Linked DNA regions of Homo sapiens. The protein of the gene in region 1 interacts with the protein of each later gene in a pairwise test. Each region holds a gene or a part of one and is shown in the gene's direction. Other genes may lie near its edges.

The links.
Region 2: the proteins of SEC14L4 (region 1) and BMF interact in binary tests that used the Homo sapiens proteins (3 or more experiments, as listed by UniProt).

The regions. Positions count from the first base shown.
Region 1 is NC_000022.11:30,502,680-30,510,515, reverse strand, and holds the start of SEC14L4 (SEC14-like protein 4), read left to right. Parts: upstream 1-4,820; 5' UTR 4,821-4,904; coding exon 4,905-4,958; intron 4,959-6,763; coding exon 6,764-6,839; intron 6,840-7,836. UniProt on the Homo sapiens protein: Probable hydrophobic ligand-binding protein; may play a role in the transport of hydrophobic ligands like tocopherol, squalene and phospholipids.
Region 2 is NC_000015.10:40,098,761-40,106,025, reverse strand, and holds part of BMF (bcl-2-modifying factor), read left to right. Parts: coding exon 1-231; intron 232-1,685; coding exon 1,686-1,846; intron 1,847-7,265. UniProt on the Homo sapiens protein: May play a role in apoptosis. Isoform 1 seems to be the main initiator.

The DNA.
Region 1 (7,836 bases):
AATGTATTAATGTCTCCATTTCACCAACTTCTAACTGACTTTATTATTTTCTTTCTTTTTGTGACAGGGTCTCCCTCTGTCACTCAGACTGGAGTGCAGTGTCACAATCATAGCTCACTGCAGCCTCCACCTTCTGGGCTCAAGTGATCCTCCCTCCTCAGCCTCCCAAGTAGCTGGGACTACAGGAGCATGCCACCACGCCTGGCTAGTTTTTTAATTTTTTGTAGAGACGAGGTCCCACTATGTTGCCTGGACTGGTCTCGAACTCTTGGCTTCAAGAGATCTTCCCAAAGTACTGGGATCACAAGTGTTAGCCACTGTGCCTGGCCTATTATCTGAGTAGCTGGGACTACAGTCTCACCCCACCACACCCAGCTAATTTTGTAGTTTTTTCTTAAAAGGTGTGTGTGTGTCTGTGTGTGTGTGTTGTTTGTTTTTGCTGATTTTTCAGAGAAAAATGCATCTCATTACTTGAATACACATTTCATTGATGACTCTGGAGATTGGGCATTCATCCACTTGATAAATACACCCTGAGCATTTTCATTCCTAAGAATTGGTGCTTTGAATCCTTTGCCCATTTATTTCTTAGGGCCTTCCTATTTTTCTTATCAACTTGAATTTTTGTACATTTTATTTTTCCCAAATTTCCATCAGCAAATACTGACAAATGTCTTTTTTTTTTTTTTTTTGAGATGGAGTCTAGCTCTGTCGTCCAGGCTGGAGTGCAGTGGCATGATCTCAGCTCACTGCAACCTCTGCCTCCCAGGTTCAAGTGATTCTCCTGTCTCAGCCTCCCGAGTAGCTGGGATTATAGGCACCTACCACCATGCGCAGCTGATTTTTGTATTTTTCGTAGAGACGGGGTTTCACTGTGTTGGCCAGGCTGGTCTTGAACTCCTGATCTCCTGATCCGCCCGCCTCAGTCTCCCAAAGTTTGGGATTACAAGCGTGAGCCACAGCGCCCGACTCTGATAAATGTCTTAATTCTGTTTCTTGTTTAATAGATTTTTGTATTTTGTAGTCAAATCAATTCATTTTCCCTTTGTGATTCTGTCATTGTTTTTAAACACAGACCATGCCCTTCCAGAGATGTGGTGTCACTTTTACTTTCTTTTAGCATTTTTTATGATTTACTTTCTTTTTCTAAAAACATATTTTAAATCTCTATAGGGCAAACAATGTTCAAATTAAATATAATGCAAGTCATAAATGTGATCCATAAATGTAATTTTATTTTATTTATTATTATTATTATTTTTTGAGACCGAATCTCACTCTGTCACCCAGGCTGGAGTGCAGTGGCATGATCTCAGCTCACTGCAACCCCCGTCTCTGCCTCCTGGGTTCAAGTGATTCTCCTGTCTCAGCCTCCTGAGTAGCTGGGATTACATGCGCACAGCATCATGCCTGGCAAATTTTTGTGTTTTTAGTAGAGACGGGGTTTTACTATGTTACCCAGGCTGGTCTCAAACTGCTGGGCTCAAGCGATCCGCCCACCTCAGCCTCTCAAAGTGCTGGGATTACAGGTGTGAGCCACCATGCCCAGCCCATACGTGTAATTTTAAATCTTTCCAGTGGCTACTTTTTTTTTTTTGAGATGGAGTCTTGCTCTGTCTCCCAGGCTAGAATGTGATGGCGCAATCTCAGATCACCGGAACCTCCGCCTCCCGGGTTCAGTGATTCTCCTACCTCAGCCTCCCGAGTAGCTGGGATTACAGACGTGCACCACCATGCCCAGGTAATCTTTGTAGTTTTAGTAGAGACAGGGTTTCGCCGTGTTGGCCAGGCTGGTCTCAAACTCCTGACCTCAGGTGATCCACCCGCCTTAGCCTCCCAAAGTGCTGGGATTACAGACGTGAGCCACCACGCCCAGCCCCAGTGGCTACATTTTTTTTTTTTTTAAGTAAAAAGGATAGGTAGGAGCACAGAGGATTTTTAGGGCAGTGAAACTATTCTGCGTGATACCACAATGGTGGACACATGTCATTATACATTTGTCAAAACCCATAGAATATCCAACACCAAGAATGAGCCCTAATGTAAACTAGGAACTTTGGGTGATATTAGCGTGTCAGTGTAGGCTCATCAATTTCAGCAAATGGATATCTCTGGAACCAGAGGTTGTGTGTGTATGGGGACAGCAGATATGTGGGAACTCTGTACTTTCTGCCCAGTTTTGATGTGAACTTAAAACTGTCCTAAAAAATAACAATTTAGCTGGGCACTGTGGCTCATGCCTATAATCCCAGGACTTTGGGAGGCTGAGGCGGGAGGATCGCTTGAGCTCGGGAGTTTGAGACCAGCCTAGGCAGCATGGCAAAACCATGTTTTGTATTTTTCTTCAAAAAAATACAAAAATTAGCCGGATGTGGAGATGCACATCTGCAGTCCCTGCTACTGGGGAGGCTGAGGTGGGAGCACTGCTTGAGCTTCAGGGGTGGGGGGCGGTGGAGCTTGCAGTGAGCGGAGATTTTGCCACTGCACTCCAGCCTGGGTGACACATTGAGACCCTGTCTTAAAAAAAGAAAAAAAATTATCATTATAAATAATTCAAAATTATTAAAACATCAAAAGAAACAGGTGAAAGTAATATTAATAACATATTTTATTGTCCTATTATATTCAAAAATATCACTTAATATATAATCATTTATATAAAATTAATTAATGAGGCTAGGAGCAGTGGCACACGCTTGTAATACCAGCAATTTGGGAGGCTGAAGCAGATGGATGGCTTGAGCTCAGGAGTTTGAGACCAGCCTGGCTAACATAGCAAAACCCTGTGTCTATAAAAAAATAAAAATAAAAATAAAAATAAATTAGCCGGGTGTGGTGGGGTGAGAATGTAGTCCCAGCTACTCAGGAGGCTGAGGTGGGAGGATCACTTGAGCCCGTGAGGTCAAGGCTGCAGTGAGCCATGATTGCACCACTGCACTCCAACCTGGGTGACAGAGTGAGATGCTGTCTCAGTACATAAATAAATAAAATTAGTTAATGAAACATTTTACTTTTTCTGGTACTAAGCCATCAAAACTTGGTTTGTATTTTACAATTACAGCATGTCTCTATGCTTGTTATGACAAGCCACGTTGTCTGGGCTCAAAAGCCTCTGTGGCTCACGGCCACTGGGTTAGTCCTTTCGGGACTAGAGCTTGGTTTGATTCCATGGGAGGACAGAGGGAACAGGGTCTTGTGGCCTGTTTTACTCTCTCCTTCATCTTCACGTCCCCTCTACTCCTCTCTTGAAAATTCACACCCAGCCAACTTCTGTTTTCTTTTTTTGAGACAGAATCTGGCTCTGTCGCCCAGGCTGGAATGCAGTGGTGCCATCTTGGCTCATTGCACCCTCAACCTCCCAGGTTCAAGCAATTCTTGTGCCTCAGCCTCCTGAGTAGCTGGAACTACAGGCGTGGACGACCACACCCAGCTAATTTTTGTATTTTTAGTAGAGACAGGGTTTCACCATGTTGGCCAGGATGGTCTCAAACTCCTGACCTCAAGTGATCCGCCTGCCTTGGCCTCCCAAAGTGCCAGGTGCCAGGATTGCAAGCATGAGCCACCGCGCCTGGCTGAACTTTTTTCTTGCTTTTCCTAGTGATCTCCGCCTGGCTCTCTTGTGTCAGCCAGAGTGGCCTTTTGGCTCTCCGCCCACTCTGTCACTCTGCCCAGGGCTTCCATTGGTCCACGGCTGGCACCTTGCATGCCTCCACCTTCAGACTGTGGCTCTCACCCAGGAGCTCCGCACTTGGGACACCCTAGGATCTCCACCCCTGCAGCTCCCAGCTCTGGTGACAGCCTCAGTAATAACACAATTCTGAAATATATTCCTACCAGCCAGCACTTACTGAGCAGGCAACGCCAGACATTCTGCTGACCCAGGGTGCGTCCTCTTATCCTTCCAACCATCTTGAGGGCAGGAACCATTTTGCACATGAGGCTGTCCTATCAGTCAGTGAGCACTGACAGGTCCCAGGCTGTGTTCAAGGTCAGGGGAAGGAGCTTGGGGGTCATTAGACAAAAGCCCTGGGGGTCCTAGAGGGTTGAGCCAGGTTTATTAAAAATTCCTCCATGTTGGCCAGGTATGGTGGTTCACATCCCTAATCCCAGCACTTTGGGTGGCGGAGGTTGGAGGATTGCTTGAGGCCAGGAGGTCCAGACCAGCCTGGTCAGCATAGCAAAACCCGGTCTCTATTTTATTCAAAATAAGAAAAAGAAAAAAAAAATTTTTTTTTTTTTTGAGACGGAGTCTCACTCTGTCACCCAGGCTGGAGTGCAGTGGCGCGATCTCGGCTCACTGCAAGCTCCGCTTCCCGGGTTCACGCCATTCTCCTGCCTCAGCCTCCCGAGTAGCTGGGACTACAGGCGCCCGCCACCACGCCCAGCTAATTTTTTGTATTTTCAGTAGAGACGGGTTTTCACCATGTTAGCCAGGATGGTCTCGATCTCCTCCTGACCTCGTGATCCGCCCGCCTCGGCCTCCCAAAGTGCTGGGATTACAGGCGTGAGCCACCGCGCCTGGCCCAAAAAAAAAAAAACATTTAAAAAAAAATTTCCTCCATTTTGCTGGAAAGAGGATCTCAGTGTATTCCCTTTCCTGCCACCTGCGAACAGGCGGGAGCCCCCGCAGTAAGGAGGCCTGGAGGTGGCTGCCTCCAGCTGCCCCAGGCCACTCTCCCGGCAGGTCACCTCCCTGTCCCAAGTAGGGTGCGCTTGGTGACCGCAGCAAAAAATCCTGGAGAGGAGGAGAGAACTGGGCGGGGCGGGGCAGGCCCAGTGCCTCTCCCGTCGGGGCGGGACCAACATCTGGCCCAGGAGGCACAACCAGGCGGCAGCGGATACAAGGCCAGGCGGCGGCGGGCGGGCGGACCTGCGCCCTGAGCCTTTCTGCGCCCGCGGGCACCATGAGCAGCCGAGTCGGGGACCTGAGCCCCCAGCAGCAGGAAGCGCTGGCCAGGGTGAGGAGCATCGCGGGCTGGGAGGCTTGAGGAGGGGCCCTGAGCAGCCTGGCACTGCCCAACCCGGCTGGAGCCCCCATGGTACAGACTGGAACACCGAGCCTGGAGAGAGCGCCTCTGTTCTGCCCTCTGGTCCAGCGTGCGGTTGTTGAGGCGGCTACGTGCAGCACGCGGGACAGGGGCCCATCTCTGCGTGACCAGGAGCCGAATCCAGTCTTCTGACCTTGCGTGCTCTCCACCACCCGGCCCTGGTCCTTGTTCCCCGGTTGTGGGGGAGGGAGTGGCGCTGCCATCCGGCTGCGGGGGCAGCCTTGGGTAGACAGACTGCTTTTCATGTCCAGGTTGCAACATTTGTTTGTTTGGCTTCTCTTTGTGATTTGTTCTTAGGGCCCAAGCTTCTCTGTAATCTTTTTTTTTTTTTTTTTTGAGATGGAGTCTTGCTCTGTCGTCCAGGCTGGAGTGTAATGGCGCAATCTCGGTTCACTGCAACCTCCACCTCCTGAGTTCAAGCGATTCTCCTGCCTCAGCCTCCCAAGTAGCTGGGGCTACAGGTGCCCGCCACCACACCCGACTAATTTTTGTATTTTTAGTAGAGACGGGGTTTCACCATATTGGCCAGGCAGGTCTCTTGGACAGGCTGGTCTCGAACTCCTGACCTTGTGATCCATCCGCCTTGGCCTCCCAAAGTGCTGGGATTACAGGTGTGAGCCACTGCGCCCGGCCTCATATTTCTAATCCCAAATTTGGATTCACAGATTCACCTTCAAACCCAGCCTTTGCCTTCAGCTCTGTTGGTCCCCAGGGAAGTGAGATCTCCTCTCTCTCAGACGCAACAGATGCCCTGATAAGGCATTCCTGGCTTCTCTTTCAGCCCCTGTCTGTTGACCTCTGCCTCTGTTTTTTTTCCACAAAGCCTCCATTGTCCGGGGCATCAGGCAGTCCACGCTGGCTGAGTGCTCACATATATCTGACACCTGCTCGGAGCCAAGCCTGCTAAGTGTTTTACGTGCACAGACTCCTTTGATTGGTACAAGTTTATTTTTATCCCCATTTCAGAGATAAGGAAACTGAGGCTTAGAGAGGTTTGGTAACTTGCCTCTAAATCTAAACCCTCAAGATGCAGTATCAGGGACAACATTCCTAAAACCGCCTAGCTGGCCTGCATCAGACTCTCCCAGGGATCCTTGTAGAAATAAGGCTGTCAGTCGGGCATGGTGGCTCACGCCTGTGATCCCAGCACTTTGGGATACTAAGGCGGGTGGATTGTTTGAGCCAAGGAGTTTGAGACCAGCCTGGGCAACATAGCAAGATCCCATCTCTACAAAAAGTACAAAAATTAGCTGGGCATCTTGTGTGCCTGTGGTCCCAGCTACTTGGGAGTCTGAGCTGGGAGGATCTATTGAACCCGGGAGGCACGGGTTGCAGTGAGCCAAGATCACGCAACTACGCTCCAGCTTGGGCGATAGAGTGAGATCCTGTTTCAATAATAATAATAATAATAATAATAATATAAAAATAATAATAAAATAAAAATTAAAAATAAGGATGCCAGGGCCCCACCTTAGACATGTAGAATGGGAGTCCAGTGTGTAGGGCACTCCCAAATTTTGGGAAGGACCCAACTCTTTTTCCTATGTTGGGCTGGAGGGTGCCCTATTTTCAGATGGCAAAGTCGTTCAGGGCAGCACCCTGCATGGTCTTCTGGTGGAGTTGACTGGTGGATGATGTGGGAAGGGTTAGGGGCGGGGTTGGTGGCCCCCGAGGTCATGAGAGCTCCGCCGACCATCAGATCCTCCTCCGCTCAGTTCCGGGAGAACCTCCAGGACCTGCTGCCCATACTGCCCAATGCTGATGACTACTTCCTCCTGCGCTGGCTGCGAGGTGAGGCTTGCAGGGGTCAGGGGACGCAGAAAGGGAGGGAAGGAAGGAGGGTCTCAGGAGAGGAGTGGGAGACTTTGAGGGAATGGAGCTGTAGGGTAGTAAAGAACACAGGCTTGCCGGGCCCGGTGGCTCACACCTGTAATCCCAGCACTTTGGGAGGCCGAGGCAGGCAGATCACCTGAGGTCGGGAGTTCGAGACCAGCCTGACCAACATGGGGAAACCCTGTCTCTACTAAAAATACAAAATTAGCTGGCTTGGTGGCACATGCCTGTAATCTCAGCTACTCAGGAGGCTGAGGCAGGAGAATCGCTTGAACCCGGGAGGCAGAGGTTGCGGTAAGCCGAGATCCCGCCATTGCACTCCAGCCTGGGCATCAAGAGTGAAGCTCCGTCTCAAAAAAAAAAAAACAAAAAAACAAAAAACACAGGGTCTGGAATCAGCCTGCTCTGACTAGAATCTGAGCTCCCCTGTGTATGAGCACAGCACAAAACCCCACTGAGCCTCAGTTTCTTCATCTGTCAAGCAAGGATGAGGCAACAGGTGGGCACAGAGTCCAGGTGAGGTTACAGTTAACAGCCAGGACATCCTCAGGCCTCTGGCCTGGCCAGCCCTTGGGGCAGATGTTGCAGAGCACTGTTTTCAGTACTTGCCTTTGGGTGTACCTCCAGTTCCCCGAGGACAGGGCTCTGTTGTCCCCTAAAGGAACCGAGGTGCCCTAGTGCACTGAGCAGGTGCCCAGCAAACACTTAAGGAAGTGGATTTAGCGAATGCTAGAGAAGCAGTTTCTTCTAGGAATTACAGCAGCAGTCTAAAAAAATAATAACAAGCCAGATGCGATGGCTCACACTTATAGTCCCAGTGCTTTGGGAGGCTGAGGCAGGCAGATTTCTTGAGCTCAGGAGTTCAAGACCAGCCTGGGCAACATGGCGAAACCTCATCTCTACAAAAAATACAAAAATTAGCCGGGTGAGCTGCCGAGCACCTGTAATCCCAGCT
Region 2 (7,265 bases), on another chromosome or scaffold:
AGCCGGTGACCCAACCCGGGAGCTTGCTCTCTGCTGACCTGTTTGCCCAGAGCCTACTGGACTGCCCCCTCAGCCGACTTCAGCTCTTCCCTCTCACCCACTGCTGTGGCCCTGGCCTTCGACCCACCAGCCAGGAAGACAAAGCTACCCAGACTCTCAGCCCAGCCTCCCCCAGCCAAGGTGTCATGCTGCCTTGTGGGGTGACTGAGGAACCCCAGCGACTCTTTTATGGTGAGTGCTCTCAGCCTCAAGACTCCTCCCATAGAGACTGGGGGAAAAGAGGGGACTTTCCCTCCCCAAACCTGCCCTTTGCTGTTTCCTTCCCCCAAAGTGATCAGCGGGGCTGTTGATTCCTTGACTTCCACCTGCTGCCTCTCGGCTTGTTATTGCTCCTCACCTGTGCCTCAGACCCCCCAAAGGGCAAATTGTCCCCTCCTGGAGGGATCCTTGGGTCCATGGTATCTCCTTTTACATCTTGTGCCCCTTGAGTGGCCTGGCCTTTAGTGTCCTAGCAGTGACTTGCCTACTATAAAGTGGCTCCTGTTGCCCTGGAGAAGTCTGGGGGATCTGTGACTGGCTGTTGACAATGAAGGGAAAAACCCAGCCGGTTCTGGGAGGGAGGGTTCCCAAAGGCAGAAGGTGGCCCCCAGTTGCCACATGGGACTTTCTGTGTGTGAAAGGGGAACTGGAGAAAGAGGTTGGGCCTGCCTGGGCCCAATGCCAGGAGAGGGGATGCTTCCAAGGCTAAGACAAGACCCCTTCATTTGTGGGCTTAAATAGTTTGTTTTATGAGAAATATGCCCTCCTCTGGCAAAAGGGCAGGGTTAGACAGTCTGTTTTCTTCTATTAGCACTGCAGCTTATGGAGGGAGGGTAAAGGCTAGGAGCGTGGCTTACTGTGTCTGACGAGCTGATTGAGGAGACACTGCAGTTACTCCCAGAGGGAACTGCCCCTTAGGGCAGTTCTGGCAAAGCAGTTCTGGCGGGAGTCTGAGAAGTTGGATAAGGCGGGCAGGCGGGGAAGAGGGAAAGGAGCGAGGAGCCCGGCGGACTGGCGCCCCTAGCGGTGGTTCTAACGCGTGCACTGGGTAAGTGTGGAGCGCTGGTCTAGAGGTCTTGCCTGGGGCTGTCTCCGGAGAGCAACTTGGCAGCTCTGTGCGTCTCAGTTTTCTCTCCCTCTTTTTGTGCTGCTGCCCAGGAGCTTCGGGAGACCAGCCTTACTCTACTGCACTAAAAAAGTGAAGACACTTTTTGATTTTTTCTTGCTCTGCCTCTTACTTTGCTCAACCCAGAAACTGGAGAGCTACCTCCAGTGCTTTTCCAGAGAAGAGCTTCAACCTGCTACTACGTGAATAACCAACTGTGGTTAAGGGTAGCTTGATAAATAAGGACGGAAGGCTGGCATGTTCGCCTGCACACGTTACCACCTGCCCTTTGTCATGGCACTGTCAGTGAATGGAGAAGCGAAGAGAAGGCTGGGGCCATTCTTTCTGTTCTGCAACTTTTATGCACTTGGGCAGCAGGCTGTCCAAGCTTGGCAGAGTGCTCCAATAGAGGCAGGCTGGCTCCTATCCTTTCTCATATGAGGATTTACCCTCAGCCTCCAATCTTGGCCAGGTCAGGCAGGCGTAGGGAGGTTGGAGCAGTTGTGGAGAATGCTGAGATGTGGATCCTCTATCTTTGCAGGCAATGCTGGCTATCGGCTTCCTCTCCCTGCCAGTTTCCCAGCAGTCTTGCCCATTGGGGAGCAGCCCCCCGAAGGGCAGTGGCAACATCAAGCAGAGGTACAGATTGCCCGAAAGCTTCAGTGCATTGCAGACCAGTTCCACCGGCTTCATGTGCAGCAAGTAGGCACGGGGGTTTAGGGGAGGAGGGTTGAGTCTGCTGGGGCTTGGGGGCCAGGGCCTGCCTCTCTCCTCTTGTCAGCAACTCTGTCTCTGCCAGACCTCAAGGATATTGTCCCAGAGTTTTGGTTATGGCGGTTCCCATGGGCAGGAGGGGCCTAACTGGCTAAGCATCTTGCCCTCATCTCTGAGCTCCACATTGGTTAACTGCCCAGTCTCAATTCATGTTCCATAAGAGCCCTCTCGGGAGAGGCTACAGTCTGGGAATAGGATGGCTTTCTGCAGCTCTGCTTGACAACCTGTCTCTTCTTATGGCCGTGGCTGAGGGGTTGCCCCTCACGGACCTAAGAGGAAGATTTTCCGGGTGCTGCAATGAAACTGGGCAGTTGGGGGGTGCCTGGCTAAGGTACAGTGGGAAACGGGTAACCAGGCCAAGGGATGGGGCCTGAGTTGGGGAAAGTGGTGGAACCGGTTGAAACCTGACACTTTCCAGCTGGGGAGGCCGCTCCTCACTGTCTCTGTCTGGGAACCAGGGTCTGGGACTCCGGAGAGTGTACCTCGGAGAGGCTCCCCAGACCGGCGGCCAGCCGGGCGCTCAGCCGGGCGCTTGGCCGGCAGCCTGGCACCAGCCCCGCCAGGGCGGGGCATCACGTGTCAGCCGAGCATGTGGCAGAGTCCATCAACAAAGGCGGCGGCTGGCAGGCTCGTGCTGGAGGAGCCCTCTGTGCCATGGCCTGGAGGCTGCCTTCCCTGTTCCAGCAGCCGCTGTCTGGGCTGGGTCCCCAGGCACTTAACCCTTCCTCTTCGGGCTGGCTTTCTGGATGGCTGCCAAGGCTGGGAGAGGAGCCTGAGGCTGCATCCGTGCTGGTACAGCCACAGCTGAAGCACAGGCATGCCACCTGGAAGCGAACACATTCTGTACTTCTGGGACTGTGTCCCCAGCCCAGCTGGCTCTGAATGTGTGTTTGTGTGTCTGACTGCGAGGAAATCAAGGGAATAAATAGCTTGACCATGACTGGGCAGACTCCGAGGTTAGAAGGGTAGCTTCAGGTGGTCGGAGGAGAGCTATTGGTAGGTTGACTTAAGGGTCAAACCATTACCAGTGCCAGGGGAAGAGGAATTGACCTTGGCTTTCCTAAGAACAGGACATTGCGGGTTACATATGGTTAGTGCCCTCTGCCAAGGAGTTCTAAGGACAGTTTGGGGCCAGGTCTGGGCCTGGTAAGTCCTCCCAGTCCCTTAGTGATCAGGAAGGGAGGGTGGCCCTATGCTTAGATAATAGATCTAAGCTCCAGTTCTTACTCTCTCCTTTGATTATTTGGTGGAAACTTGGCTTCGAGTTTCCCCTTCAGTCCATGTGTGGACTCACTCTGATTCTTGTTTTCAGTTTCTTGGCCTCCTTCCTGCCCATTCACTCCACCGTGGTTGTACAGGCCTACGGCTGAGCCCAGCTCACAGCTTCCAGTCCTGGTACTGGAGAGGATGGGAGGACACAGTGGCTGTGGCTCTTTTAGACTCATCTAGCGGGCTCCGTGGAAGGCAGCTTGCTTCATTTGCAATAATCTGATCTCTTTCACCAGTTATTCCCCAGAATATTCCCCCATCCACTGGTGAGCCTCTATAGGCTTGGGAATAGGCCGGGAGCCCTCCCTGGCACAGGACTAGGATACAGTCCTGGGGGCCCTCCTAACTTGGTCCTGAACAGGAGGAGGAGGAGGCCCTTATCCCAAGGTCTGGCCCTGATTTTTTTTTTTTTTTTTTTTTTTGGCTCTTTCGCCCAGGCTGGAGTGCAGTGGCATGATCTCGGCTCACTGCAACCTCTGCCTCCCCAGTTCAAGCGATTCTCCTGCCTCAGCCTCCCGAGTAGCTGGGATTATAGGCACGCACCACCACACCTGGCTAATTTTTGTACTTTTAGTGGAGACGGGGTTTCGCCATGTCAGCCAGGCTGGTCTCGAACTCCTGACCTCAGATGATCCACCTGCCTCGGCCTCCCAAAGTGCTGGGACTACAGGCGTGAGCCACTGCGCCTGCCTTGCCCTGCTTTTTGCTGGTTGGCATCACTTCTCCCAGTTCAGAGCTGCCTCTTTGCATGCACAGGTTAGTTTTAGACAAGGTGTTGTGCTTTTAGCCAGAGCCACCCAAGCTGGGGAGAAGGAAAGTGGAGGTGCAAGGCATGAGAGTCTCCTCTGCCTTGCACCTTACTCCACACTGGCTCCCAGGTTTCCTGTACCCCTACCCTCCTGCCATCTACCTACTTCTTACTTACAAGGGTAGGAGGCTGACCAGTGAGCCTTTTCTAGCTCAAAGAGCTGGTTTTCCCAAATTTTCCAGTACAAAGAGCCAGGGTTTTGTCTTCTCCTTAAACAGTTCTCCCCAGAGTCTTCTTGCTTTTAACCCCCTCCTCCCCACTGACCCTACTTATAGACCTTCACCAGGAACTCATCCTGCAGGAAGGGCTAAGGTGATGGCTTCAGGCAGGTGGAACACTGGTACTCCTGGAACGTTTCAGCAGCTGGTTTTGAGAAGTGAGTCATTTTCTAAGCTTGATTCTTATATAAACTACAGTCTAAGATTTCATATCTAGAAAGTACTGTTGTCACTCCTCCATTCTTATCCTTTATCTTCTTTCCCTATTCCCTTCCCTCATTTTTGCAGGCAGAGAAACTGAGGCAGTGGGAAGGAGGTTATTTAGGATTTAGTTTCTAGGCTTTGGGTTCAGAGTCAGAAAGCCCAGGTTTGAATACCAGCTCTGCCATCTACTAGTTTTCAGGAAGTCACTTGACTTCACTGAGCCTATTTCCTCTTCTATGAATTAGTGCTAATACCACAGAATTTTACTGTGATAATTAAGTGAGAAAATACCTATGAGAGTTTGGGACACACAGTAGATGTTCTTTAATGCCTGTTTCCTTCTTTCTGTTTATGATCCTGATCACCCCCGACGTTTGTTCTTGTTGGTTCACAATTCATTTCCCACTCCACCTGGCAGGGGACTCCCTGAGCAGAGCTGCCTCCCCTGAACTTCCCTCCACCTGCCTGGTCCAGAGGAATTAGTGTCCAGACTGATCATCTGTGGACCTTGGCCTTATCGATTTCTCTTCAGGGAATGATAGTCATTCCCCATCATTGCGGGCTGGATTTAGAGAGCCAAGAAAAGCAACCCTAGAGGCAGATGGGACTTGAGGAGGCCTGACCGTCACCTTTCCCCTACATCTGGGATAGTGTCCTGGGGCTAGACAGTGGCCACTGGTCCATAGTCCTGTGGAGAGTGTGCACTCCCCCTTTTTGTCCCTGGTTACAGACCTGAGTTACTCGTTTTTTTGCACCAGAACGACCTTCTCCCTTGGAGGTATGGAGCAGAGGGAGGGGGCGTGCTGATGCCATGAAATCCCAATTGAGTGTATCGACCTGGCTCCAGATGCAACAGGTTCCAAGTTTCCCTGGGTGTCGTTTTACGTGGGCCATCTGCACTTTCAGCGCATTTCCCAAGAGCCTTGCTAGGTGGAGGACTAGCCTGGTCACCCGAGTTACCAGTTCAGGGTGACTCTTCCAGATCCACAGGCAAAAAACCGGAGGCAGAAGATCAGAGTTAGCAGGGTGCTCCGCCTCAGCTCTTTGTGTCTCCAAAGCAGCAAGAGAGTTGGAGGCAGAGTGAGTGGAGGTAAAAACCTTTCAGAACCTCACCACACATCCCACCTTCCTTTGGCCGGGGCAGGAGTGAAGGTTCCCCTGTTTGCTCCTCTGTGAGCTGACAAACTGTGGCAGGGACCCCCGATGGTCTGCTGATAATGACTTATCTTGAGGGTGGTGCTGTGGTGCTTCTGTGTCCAGCTTCTGCATGGAAGAGCATGGTGCAGATGTACTTCCTCCCTGAGCCCCTGGGCTGCCCTGGCCAGAAGGTCTGAGCCCCAGCTTTCCTGTCCTTGTGCCATGGCCTCATTCAGCACGAGCCTAAGGAGGGGCAGGAAGTGGTATCCCCTCCCCTTGGGAGAGTCTTCTGTCCCAGTGGCCCATCATGACATTTGGGGGTATTTCTGGGCAATGTTAAGAAGCCAAGAATCCTCAAAAACAGTAGTTACTGTAAACAGTCGAGTGAGTAAAGCTACAGGAGGGTTGGAATTCTTCATGTTGGAAATGGCTTTTTCACTTGGACCAGGAGTGGCTCCATTCAGAAAAGCCGGGTTTGGAAATCTCTGAATAGTAATTAGACTTTTTGGCAAATGAAATCTGAGAAAACTTTCAGCCACTCAGTTGAAACCATCTTTAGCTGTAATATCACAAAAAGGATCCTAGACTTGTAGGCAGATCTGTTAAAATCCCAGCTCTGCCACTTATAAGTTATGTGTTCGTGGGCAAATCATGTAATCTCTCCAAGCCTTTTTTTTTTTTTTTTTTTTTTGGTGAGACAGCGTTTCGTTCTTCTTGCCAAGCTGGAGTACAGTGGTGCGATCTCGGCTCACTGCAACCTCTGCCTCCGGGTTCAAGTGATTGTCCTGCCTCAGCCTCCTGAGTAGCTGGAATTACAGGCATGCACCACCATGCCTGGCTAATTTTTGTATTTTTAGTAGAGACGGGGTTTCTCCATGTCGGTCAGGCTTGTCTTGAACTCGCGACCTCAGGCGATCCGCCCATCTCGGCCTCCCAAAGTGCTGGGATTACAGGTGTGAGCCACTGCACCCGGCTTAGTCTTGGTTTCTAATACTTACCTTGCCTAGTTGATGTGAAGGGCCTTTAGGAGTTGTGATACAAATAACTATTAAGTCAGGGACAGTTGAGTACTTTTAGAAATATGTTAAAAGATGACTTTAGGATTTTGCTTGGACCTGACTTTGTAATTTGGGGAGCTCTTTTGGAAGTTGTACCCGAGTTGGTGTTTGCATGGTTTATTAACTAGCAGCTTCTCTGCCTAGCAGACTGGATCCTTTGTTCAGGGAGCCCCTGATTGCTTCCTGACACTTTGGGATTCTCTAGTTATTAGTGAGTGGTTTTCTGGAACTTAAGCTGGCTAACTAGGTTGCTCAGCGTCTAGATGGGACAGCCCCGGGCAGGGGCCCCAGAGGTTTGCTATAGAGTGAGATGGGTCCCTAGGAAGCCAGCCTCTGTCCCAGGAGTGGGAGGCCCACCTAGGACAGTGCCAGGGGAAGAATGAGGCTGGGGGAGGGACTGCGGAGAGCCAGAGTGCGTGAGAGCCAGCGCCGGGGCTGGGGGCCCTGTGTTTGCTCTGTGGCTGGCTCTGTTTATATCGCTCGCTATATTTAGCTTCTGAGTCATCAGCGTGGCAGACTAGAGGCTGAGTTCCCCACACACTCTGCACCTGACTGCTCTCTCTTCCAGGAGAAGGGCCTTGTAGTTCCGGAGAGTTCATTCCCTCCCCACCAAGGCCTGCCATGGGATGGAAATTGGCTTTTTTTTTTGGAAA